Homo sapiens: one gene and its partners. The protein of the gene in region 1 binds, or shares a complex with, the protein of each later gene. Each region holds a gene or a part of one and is shown on either strand. Other genes may lie near its edges. The genes, in order: POLR3F, POLR3K and POLR3D.

The links.
Region 2: POLR3F (region 1) and POLR3K share a complex: the UniProt entries of both Homo sapiens proteins name them as parts of the RNA polymerase III complex.
Region 3: POLR3F (region 1) and POLR3D share a complex: the UniProt entries of both Homo sapiens proteins name them as parts of the RNA polymerase III complex.

What each region holds. Positions count from the first base shown.
Region 1 is NC_000020.11:18,473,809-18,477,463, reverse strand, and holds part of POLR3F (DNA-directed RNA polymerase III subunit RPC6), read right to left. Parts: intron 2,390-3,655; coding exon 2,277-2,389; intron 1-2,276. UniProt on the Homo sapiens protein: DNA-dependent RNA polymerase catalyzes the transcription of DNA into RNA using the four ribonucleoside triphosphates as substrates.
Region 2 is NC_000016.10:45,752-48,257, forward strand, and holds the end of POLR3K (DNA-directed RNA polymerase III subunit RPC10), read right to left. Parts: intron 1,807-2,506; coding exon 1,679-1,806; 3' UTR 656-1,678; downstream 1-655. UniProt on the Homo sapiens protein: Core component of RNA polymerase III (Pol III) which synthesizes small non-coding RNAs using the four ribonucleoside triphosphates as substrates. Can mediate Pol I proofreading of the nascent RNA transcript.
Region 3 is NC_000008.11:22,243,828-22,248,049, reverse strand, and holds the start of POLR3D (DNA-directed RNA polymerase III subunit RPC4), read right to left. Parts: upstream 2,918-4,222; 5' UTR 2,867-2,917; intron 2,606-2,866; 5' UTR 2,601-2,605; coding exon 2,436-2,600; intron 830-2,435; coding exon 786-829; intron 194-785; coding exon 42-193; intron 1-41. UniProt on the Homo sapiens protein: DNA-dependent RNA polymerase catalyzes the transcription of DNA into RNA using the four ribonucleoside triphosphates as substrates.

The DNA of each region.
Region 1 (3,655 bases):
CAAATCAGTTGGGTAAATACTTAAGAGCTTGACCTTTGGACAATGTGGTAAGACTCTGTTTAGTTTTGTAAAAACTGCCCAGTTTTTTAACAAAAGGACTGAAAATTTTGCATTCTTAGCAATGTATGAGTGTTCATCTTGGTCTGTATCTTGTCAGCATATGGTATTACCAATTTTTAGATTTTAGCTATTCTAATAGGTGTGTAGTGGTATCTCACTATACTAAATTTTATTTTAATTTGCAGTTCTCTAATGAAAAATAATGTAGAGCATCTTTTCATATGCTTATCTGCCATCTGTATGTCTTCTTTGGTGAGGTTCAGATCTTTTGCTCATTTTTAGTTGGATTATTTGTTTTCATTGTGTGTTTTTTTTTTTTTTTCTTTTTTTGAGATGGAGTTTCGCTTTTGTTGCCCAGGCTGGAGTACAATGGTGCAATCTTGCTCACTGCAACCTCTGCCTCCTGGGTTCAAGCAATTCTCCTGCCTCAGCCTCCCAAGTAGCTGGGATTACAGACATGTGCCACCACGCCTGGATAATTTTGTATTTTTAGTAGAGACAGGGTTTCACCATGTTGGTGAGGCTAGACTTGAACTCCTGACCTCAGGTGATCCACCCGCCTTGGCCTCCCAAAGTGTTGTTTTCTTATTGCTGAATTTTAGGAGTTCTTTGTATATTTTGGAGACAAGTCCTTTATCAAATATGTGATTTGCAAATATCTTTTAGTATGTAACTTGTCTTTTCATTCTCTTAATGTGTCTTGCAAAGCAGAGGTTTTCAAAAAATTTTGATAAACTCCAACTTATTAACATTTTCTTTCATAGACTACTATTGGAGTTATAGTCCAAGAATTCATTAACAAAGCCAAGGTCATGTAGATTTTCTATGTTTTCTTCAAAAAGTTTTATAGTTTTGCACTTTACACTGAGATCTAAGATTATTTTAACCCTTAAAAGGACACAGAAGTTCACCAACGGATGAATGAACAAAAGGTGATATACATCTATACAATGGAATTTTAATTGGCAATAAGAAGGAATAAAGCACAATATGGATAAATCTTGAAAACATCATGCTAAGTCAAAGTAGTCATACATAAAAGACTACATATTCTATTATTCCATTTATAGGAACTGTCCAGAATAGGCAAATCTATAATAAAGGCAGAAAATAAATTATTCGTTTTTAGGGCCTATGGAAAGAGAGGCTGGGAAACAAATACTAGTGGCCACATTTGGGGGTGATGAAAATGTTCTAAAATTAGAACAGCGGTGATGGTTGCACAACTCTTAGCTTATAGTAAAAACCAGTGACTGTAAATCCAAAGATTTTACACTTTAAAAGGTTGAATGAATTCTGTAGTATGAATGATGAATTATATTTCAGCAGAGCTGTTATTAAACATAAAGATGTAGAAGGAGGACTGACAAAATGAGGCTACATGATAGGGTTTTATTATATGATTTTTTCTACCTTTGTATATATTTGAAATTATCCATTAAACAATGTGGAAGGGAAATGCTATTCTGATAAATAAAATCACTAATAAGCATCAAATTCTTATAAGTGATGTTATAATTCTTATAATTCTTGTTTTATTCAAAAATAAAAACTTGAAGCAACATATGTAAGCGGATATTTGAGGAAAGGTCTACTCACTGCCACAGACCTAACAGCTCTGAAATTATAAAATTTGAATTATAGCTGTAATTCTTATGAAATGTGTATTGAAGCAAACTTTATTCTAGGGGAATCTCAGTTCCTCTGATGTCTAAATCAGTGAGGTCAGGGGCAGATGTCCCCGAGGGAGCCAGCTCTGGAGCAGGGGTGGGGCAGGATGAGGAGCAGGAAAAACACACGTGTACTAGAAGAGAAGCTCCACCAAGGCAGGGATCTTTCTACGACTTGTTCATTAATGTATCCCAAGCACTCAAAACAGTGTCTGGCACACAGCAAACACTCTTTGTTGAATGAGAAAGCTAATATGTCGGGATAAAGTAAATTATCTTACACACCACAAAATCTAGGAAAAATGTTCACAGTTCCAAAGATTCTTCACTGAAGACAGTAAAGTAGTTTTAGATTTTTGAGTGGGTGAGTGAGACACCAAGAGCTAACTGTGTAGGGACAAGTCTAAGCAGCATCTCCAAACCAATCCAACATGAGCTAAATTTTTAAGTCTTTTTTGACCAGCTGTTCTAAATCATGACATAACTTCAAGAATAAAAACTTGAAGCAACATATGTAAGTGGGTATCTGAGGAAAGGACTACTCACTGCTACAGACTTAACAGCTTTGATAAGCTTTTTACTTTCCAGATTCTTCAGAATTTTGTTGATTTCTGTTAATGGCAAATTACTTTTATAGCGGATATCTCTGCTCCATATTCCTATAAGAAAGTAAAGTAAAATAAGTTGAACTCTGGTTTTCATGGATTTTTAATGTTATTCCTCTAACTTGTGTCTCATTCCAAAGCTAGCAGTATAAAGCTAACAGTAAAGAATGCTGGCTAAAGTAGCAAAAGTATGCTAAACAATAAATAAGTATAATGCTTTGTAAGACTTATTATAATGATTTATAATTTCTAACTAGAAATTTCTTGGAATCCCAGTGTGGCAAACTTTTAAAAAACTTATGGAAAGGGCTGGGCATGGTGGCTCATGCCTGTAATCCCAGCACTTAGGGAGGCCGAGGCAGGTGGGTCACCTGAGCTCAGGAGTTTGAGACCAGCCTGGCCAACATGGTGAAACTCTGTCCCTACTAAAAATACAAAAATAATTAGCCGGGCCTGATGGCATGCACCTGTAGTCCTAGCTACTCGGGAGGCTGAGGCATGAGACTCGTTTGAACCCGGGAGGCGGAGGTTGCACTGAGCCGAGATCACACCATTGCACTCCAGCCTGGGCAACAGAGCAAGACTCCATCTCAAAAAAAAGAAAAAAAAAATTATGAAAACGACGTTTTTATAATGGAAGGAAAAATCATGGATGCAATGGAATTTTATCATCTGTACCCTTATCTCTGTTTTCTGATACTTTCATTTTAGATTGTAAATGTGAAATACAAACTTAAATTTGGGTCAAGGTCAACTGCCATCCTCAAGTGGGACAAAAACACTCTTTAGATGAGTGTCTGCATGCATGTAATCCATTATTTATACAACATTGTATTTGTGAGATGGAAAAGGAAGCCTAGGGTTCTTATGGCTGCTAAAAGCCCTGTGTGAGAAGCAATGATTTCTTTTTCAAAGAAGGAAATAAGTGTTATATATGGAAAGGGAATGTATGTAAATATTTTGCTTTATTTTCTTCCCAATGTAATGGCATATGAGATAGGAAGATTAAAAAAATATGCAGAATGGCTTTCTCATAGGACTATTTTTAAAAATGTTAATTTTAATAAATATAAGAATTAGTTATGTAATTTCAGATTACATCTCAATTTTTCCAGCTAATATCAATGACTCAAATAGATCCCAAATTATTGTAACTTAGGATTGCAATTTAGATACAGTTCTTCAAGCGGGTAGAAGAGAAACTATAGCTGCGGAGGGACATCTGTTAAGACACTGCTACACCACACCAGCTTTCCTTTTGGTCCTTGCAAAAACGAGAGGTGTCAGCATCCACAATTTATAGATAAGATAAAGAAACTG
Region 2 (2,506 bases), on another chromosome or scaffold:
TGTGGGTGTTCATTTGCACCTTTTCAGGATAAGTCGAGGCCTTCTCCATCTGGACAGAGAAGGCACTAGAAGTGACTCAGGTGTTGTTAGGAGACGTTATTCCCAGATTTGGACTGCCTCTGAGATCAGACAATGGACCAACATTTGTGGCTGCAAGAGTTCAGGACTTAACTAGACTATTAAAAATAAAGTGGAAATTGCGTACATCCTACAGGCCACAGAGCTCAAGTACAGTGCACGAACCAGACACTCAAACAGCTGCTGAAAAAATTTTGTCAAGAAACTCATCTAAAATAAGATCGGGTCTCGCCCATGGTCCTCCTCCAAGTCAGGTACACCCCCACCAAACAAACTGGGTATTCGTCCCGTGAAATATTGTTCAGAAGGCTGCCCCCAATCATTAATCAAATTAGAGGGGATTTAAAAGAGTTAGGAGAGCTAACCCTTAGAAGACAGATGCACTCCTAAAGGAGTGACAATGCAAGAGATGCATGGCTAAGTATTAAAAAAAAAAAAAATGCCTATAAGTCTAACAGACCCAGTACACCCTTTCAAACCTAGGGTCTGTGTTTAGGTTAAAAAATAAAATCCAACCACTCTAGGACCCATATAGGATAGGCCCCATATTGTGATCAGGAACTGATCAACATGTTCAAACAATAAGAAAATAGTCATATTAAATGTAAAGATTGGTGGGACACAGTGGCTCACGCCTGTAATCCCAGCACTTTAGGAGGCCGAGGCAGACAGATTATCTGAGGTCAGGAGTTGGAGACCAGCCCGACCAACATGGAGAAACCCCATCTCTACTAAAAATGCAAAATTACCCAGGTGTGGTGGTGCATGCCTGTAGTCCCAGCTGCTTGGGAGGCTGAGACAGGAGAATCCCTTGAACCCGGAAGGCAGAGGTTGCAGTGAGCTGAATTCGTACCACTGCACTCCAGCCTGGGCGACAGAACAAGACTCTGTCTTAAATAAATAAATAAATAAATAAAATAAATAAATAAATAAATAGTATCTTATACATTTAAAGCAACCCGAGGAAGCAAATCAGGGGAGGTTCAAAAAAATGAATAAGGGAGTAAGAATAGGAATAAAGAAAGAAATTGAAATCCCGGTGATTAACATTTTCGTAGCCTGTTCAAATGTAAGTATGTAGTCTATTCTGGGATCACTGTGATTTGGGGTTTGCTTTCTACCTCTTAAGCTATTTAAAACACTGAGAAGGCAATATTCCAACTTTCATTTAAATGAAATATTCAGAATTTTGATTAAAATAAATAATAAATTACACAAGTTTACAAGTAACAGTTAAATATTTAGGGACATGTACTAAGTTTTACAAACAGTACAAATATTTAAGAGTGTTGATTGGGAGTAAGGGAATGTCAACTGCCAATAAAGTGGAAGATGAAAGAATAGGACTTTACACAGAGCATATTTAGTTATGGGTCTCTGTCTCCTCCCCACACAGAAAAACTCCCAGACATTCATGACTTCATCCACCCTGCCTGGCAGATAGGCCATATTTCCTGACCCCCTGGCTCTTCACCTCAAAAGGTTTATCTTTCCACCACACTAGCAAAGACCCTCAGGACACACAACTCATACTGCCAGCTAAGCATCTACCCCGAGGGACAAGGCAAGCACACACTAGGGCAGCTGGGCCATCCTGGCCCTAATCCCTCCAGCGGTGTCCACACTGAGCATTGCAGCACTTGTAGAAGGTGGTCATCGGCTCATCTGCAGAGCGGGTCTGAAGCTGCATGAAGTAAGCACGAGGATGTTCGCATTTGGGACACGACTCTGGCAATGAGAAAAAAGAAGTGACCACATTTAAAAAAAGATGCTACTCATGGCTGTCAAAAGTAGGTATTACTTAATATGTGGGAGGCCAAGGCGGGCGGATCACCTGAGGTCAGGAGTTCGAGACCATCCTGGCCAACATGGTGAAACCCCATCTCTACTAAAAATACAAAATTAGCCAGGCGTGGTGGCGGGCGCCTTTAATCCCAGCTACTTGGGAGGCTGAGGCAGGAGAATCGCTTGAACCCAGGAGGCAGAGATTGCAGTGAGCCAAGATCGTGCCACTGCACTCAAAAAAAAAAAAAAAAAAAAAAAGTAGGTATTACTATAATATCTTTTTTTTTTTTTTTTGAGATGGAATCTCGCAGTCACCCAGGCTGGAGTGCAGTGGGGCGATCTCAGCTCACTGCAACCTCTGCCTCCCGGGTTCATGTGATTCTCCTTGCCTCAGCCTCCCAAGTAGCTGGGATTACAGTTGCCCGCCACCACACCCGGCTAATTTTTTTGTATTTTTAGTAGAGACAGGTTTTCACTATGTTGGCCAGGCTGGTCTCGAACTCCTGACCTCATGATCCGCCCACCTCAACCTCCCAAAGTGCTGGGATTACAGGCATGAGCCACCGTGCCCAGACTACTTAATATCTTTAAAGATGGTAAAGAACCTCCCTGCTCATTTGATCCCCCTTGACAAGGGTAGATC
Region 3 (4,222 bases), on another chromosome or scaffold:
GGGGCAGTCTGAACTGAAATTCACTGATTCCTTCCTTATACCTTTTTTCTTCATCATTTCAGCTGGGCCCTGCTCAAAGATGGAGTGAGACTGGATCACTTCTGGACGGCCTCGCCCTCGTCCATGCCCCTCTCGTTGTCGGTCTCTGTCCCTTTCACGCTTCTCCTTCTTGACAGTTACTTCTTCCTTGGGCCTGGAAAAAAGAATGGATTAAGGGAAACCACTCACTCACTGTGTCTCCAAAATCTGGCCTTACTCTCCCATACCACTTCACTCCAAAACAGTGGAGAGTTTGAGCCAATATTTACACCATGAGAAGCAGAATCCAATCCTAATTCTAGCACTTTTCTCACTTCCTTGATGAGGCAGGATTTTTTCAGTTTGCTTTACTTTACCTTCTTGTCCAAAAATATAGATTTTTGTTTGCATTGGGACTGAAAGCAGGAAGGCAGAAATGCAAAGGAACTTCAGGGAAAGTGTGATACATCTTTGTTTAAACTATTGGCTCTCAACTCGGGCAACAAAGAGAATCACTCCATTCTACTGCCAGCAAGTTAAATCACAATTTCTAAAGATGGAACCCTAGACACCAGTAATTATTTATTTATTTATTTATTTTTTAAAGCTTGCAGAATCACCTAGGAGCCAGGGTTGAAAATCACTAGTGAAAAGAACTAAAGATATAAATTTAAATTTTGGAGCTACAAACCTAGTTATTTCCCCCAAAGCCCCAAATTCAGAGCAAGTAAATAAGGGGCAAGTATTCAGAAGGCCTAGCTACTTACTCTTCCTTGATCTTCCGACTGATGATATTTGGGGTGAAGGTTTTCTGAAAGCAAAATACAGGAGTCACTGATGTGTTAGGTTCTGACCCCAAAGTACAGAGGAAAATAAAAATTCCCAAAGGGCATCTTCTACAGACCAAGGCCACCACGGCTCTCGTTGGCACATTCCACAGTGCTGTCAGTTTTATAGATACACATGTGCCTGAAAAGGAGGAATGTCATAGTGTGGTAGCAGTGGAGTTACACATAGAAGGGGGCACCAAAACCCACTTTTAACCAGCAGCCTTAGGTTCTGCCTCTGAAAGAAGATCCTCTGGGACTTCTAAAAGCAAAGGAATTTCTCTGGTCTCACCTCTTCTCTTCAAACTGCTATAGAGACCAGTCAGTATCATGGGGGAACAGCTCTAGCAGCAAGGCCTAAGTAGGGAAGGCCATAGATCTGCCAACACTTTCAATCAGGTGACTATGGACTGTCACCACAATTTTCCAAGGCAAAGTTAGGTTTTTAAAAACTGCTTTATGGCTGGGCGTTGTGGCTCATGCCTGTAATCCCAGCACTTTGGGAGGCCAAGGTGGGTGGATCACGAGGTCAGGAGTTCAAGATCAGCCTGGCCAAGATGGTGAAACCCGTCTCTACTAAAAACTACAAAAAGTAGCTGGGCGCGGTGGCGGGCCCCTGTAATCCCAGCTACTCGGGAGGCTGAGGCAGGAGAATCGCTTGAACCCGGGAGGCGGAGGTTGCAGTGAGCTGAGATGGTGCCTCTGCACTCCAGCCTGGGCGACAGAAAGAGATTCCCTTAAAAACAAAACAAAAAACCAAAAAACCGCTTTATTCGGCCAGGAGCGGTGGCTCACACCTGTAATCCCAGCACCTTGGGAGGTCGAGGCAGGCGGGCGGATCACGAGGTCAGGGGTTCAAGAACAGCCTGGCCAACATGGCAAAACCCTGTGTCTACTAAAAATACAAAAATCAGCTGGGCATGGTGGCGGGCGCCTGTAATCCCAGCTACTCAGGAGGATGAGGCAGGAGAATCGCTCAAACCTGGGAGGCAGAGGTTGCAGTGAGCTGAGATCGTGCCATTGCACTCCAGCCTGGGGGACAACGGCGAGACTTCCTCTCAAAAAAAACCAAAACCAAAACCAAAACCTGCTTTGTTCTTCTGTCATCCTGACCCCACCCCTTTCTGGGCTACTCTTGACATCCACAGTCATATACACATGGGAGAGGCCACAGAGCCTCGAATGCCATACCTAGGATTCATCATACTCTAGATAAAAAGTTTGCACACAGAGATGGTGAATTCTGAACCCTCTAAGACTGCGAAGTTTATGCCTGTCTGGCTTTCATGGGTTTCTTAAAGATGTCCAAACACACAATAAAAGTAAATAAACACTGTTCAAATTGCTTTTGAACGACTTTAACTTATTAGGATTCTCTGCCCTTCAACCACCTCTGGGAGTCATTTCAACATCTTGTACTCAGTACCTAGATTTGAAGGTAGGACAGACTCCCTAGAATTTAAAGAGGGGTAGGCTTGAGAGGCCCAACGACAGTCCTGACACACAGTAGGTCCTACACAAACATTAGTTGAATCCTGGGGCTTGGAATTCAAGGTAGTTGAGTTTCTTTAGAAACGCGCCGTTGGGTACCTTCTTGACTCCCCCGAGGGTGAGGTCCCTGGAACGGATGGAGGGAAGGCGGCCGGGGGTGAGGGGAGGCGCCGGCCGCCGCCCGATGAGCCCCCGGGCCCCAGTCAGGAGAGGTCGGGGCCCTCCCGGCGTGCTGGGCTCGCCGGCGGCGTTTCCTTCCGACATGTTGCCTGGGAGAGAAGGGGCGACGAGATCACCAGAGGGGACTGACACGCGGACCCTGGCGGAACCCCACCCCCTTGCTTTCCGGTCCCCCAGTCGGTGCGTCCCTCCAGTGGCCTCTCAGCTCCTCCCCTCCCACGTGGCGAGACTCCCGGGACCACCCAGGTGAGAGCCTTTGGCTCGCGACACGCCCTCTCCAGGAACCCCGCCCAGGAACCAGACAGGGACGCACCCGGGCCGCGGCTCCACACCGCGCGTCACAACCTCACCTGCAACGCGACCAGCCGCCAGCCTTCGGTCTCCGCGCCGGGCGGAAGTCTGCGTGGCAGGGCCTGGGCGCCGCCATCTTGGCGCGGGGCGGAAGTGACGTTAGGGGGGCGGGACTGGGCCACAGTATTTATCAGGCGGCGCTTCGCTCCCCTCCGCCTTCTCTTCCCGGTTCTTCCCGGAGTCGGGAAAAGCTGGGTTGAGAGGGCGAAAAAGGATGAGGTGACTGGTCTGGGCTACGCTATGCTGCGGCGCTCGGGGGTCTTGGCCTCCGGGCGGTGGCGTGGAGGCGCCAAGATCAGGGTCCCGGGTTTTGTCGGCCACCACGCCGCAATGTGAGGATTCGCCTCGGCGGAGCCCCTGGGAGCTTCGGGGTAGCTGCTCGGGATGGGGCGAGGGGCGCGGCGCGGCGCAGAGAGTGAGACCTGGACTTAAGAGTCGGGGAGTCCTGGGCCACACCGAGCCCTGTCTGCGGGTTCTCCATGGTGACCTTGGAGTGGTCATTACCTCCGGGCAGCGACCTCGCCCACTTTCGGGGACCCCTTCCCTGTGCTCCTGGTGGAGTCCTGGGGTGAGGCTGTGGGGGCAGCTTGGAACAGCCGCAGTGGACCAACCGGTGCCCAGTCATACCCGCTTCTGATCACGAAGGCGGTGGCCCTCGTGTGCGCTCTTGGTCAAAGCCTGGAGGGAATTGGAATACCAAGTTTGCTCTACTGCTGGAGGAATTTAAAGAACTTTTGTTGACTCCAGCGTTTGTGATTTAACATAAAAGGTGTCATTTAATGTTATCCCCCATCCCCCAGACCGTATAAAAACCATGTAACAATATTATGGGGAGTTTGAGGAAAGGAAATCATTTCTACCAGAATGCCACGTAGAGTACTACTATTAAAAATTTTGTAATGTATCTAGTAGTCTTCACAGAGTTGTCGTATCACAATTTCGTGTCCTTTTTCTTTTCTTTTCTTTCTTTTTTTTTTTTTTGAGACGAGGTTTCTCTCTGTTGCCCAGACGGGAGTGCAGTGGTGCGATCAACACACCGCAACCTCTGCCTCCCAGGCTCAAGCCATGCTTCCACCTCAGCCTCCTGAGTAGCTGGGACTACAAGTGCATGCCACCACGCCCGGCTAATTTTTTCTTTTTCTTTTTTTTTTTTTTTTTTTTTTTGTATTTTTCGTAGAGACGGGGTTTCACTATGTTGCCCAGGCTGGTCTTGAACTCCTGAGGTCAAGTGATCCCACCCGCTTCGGCCTCCCAATGTGCTGGGATTACAGGCATCAGCCACCACGCCTGGCCTGTATCCTCCTTTTTCAAATAACATTTCTCTGTTGCGACATCAAAGACTGCGTAGTTCTCCA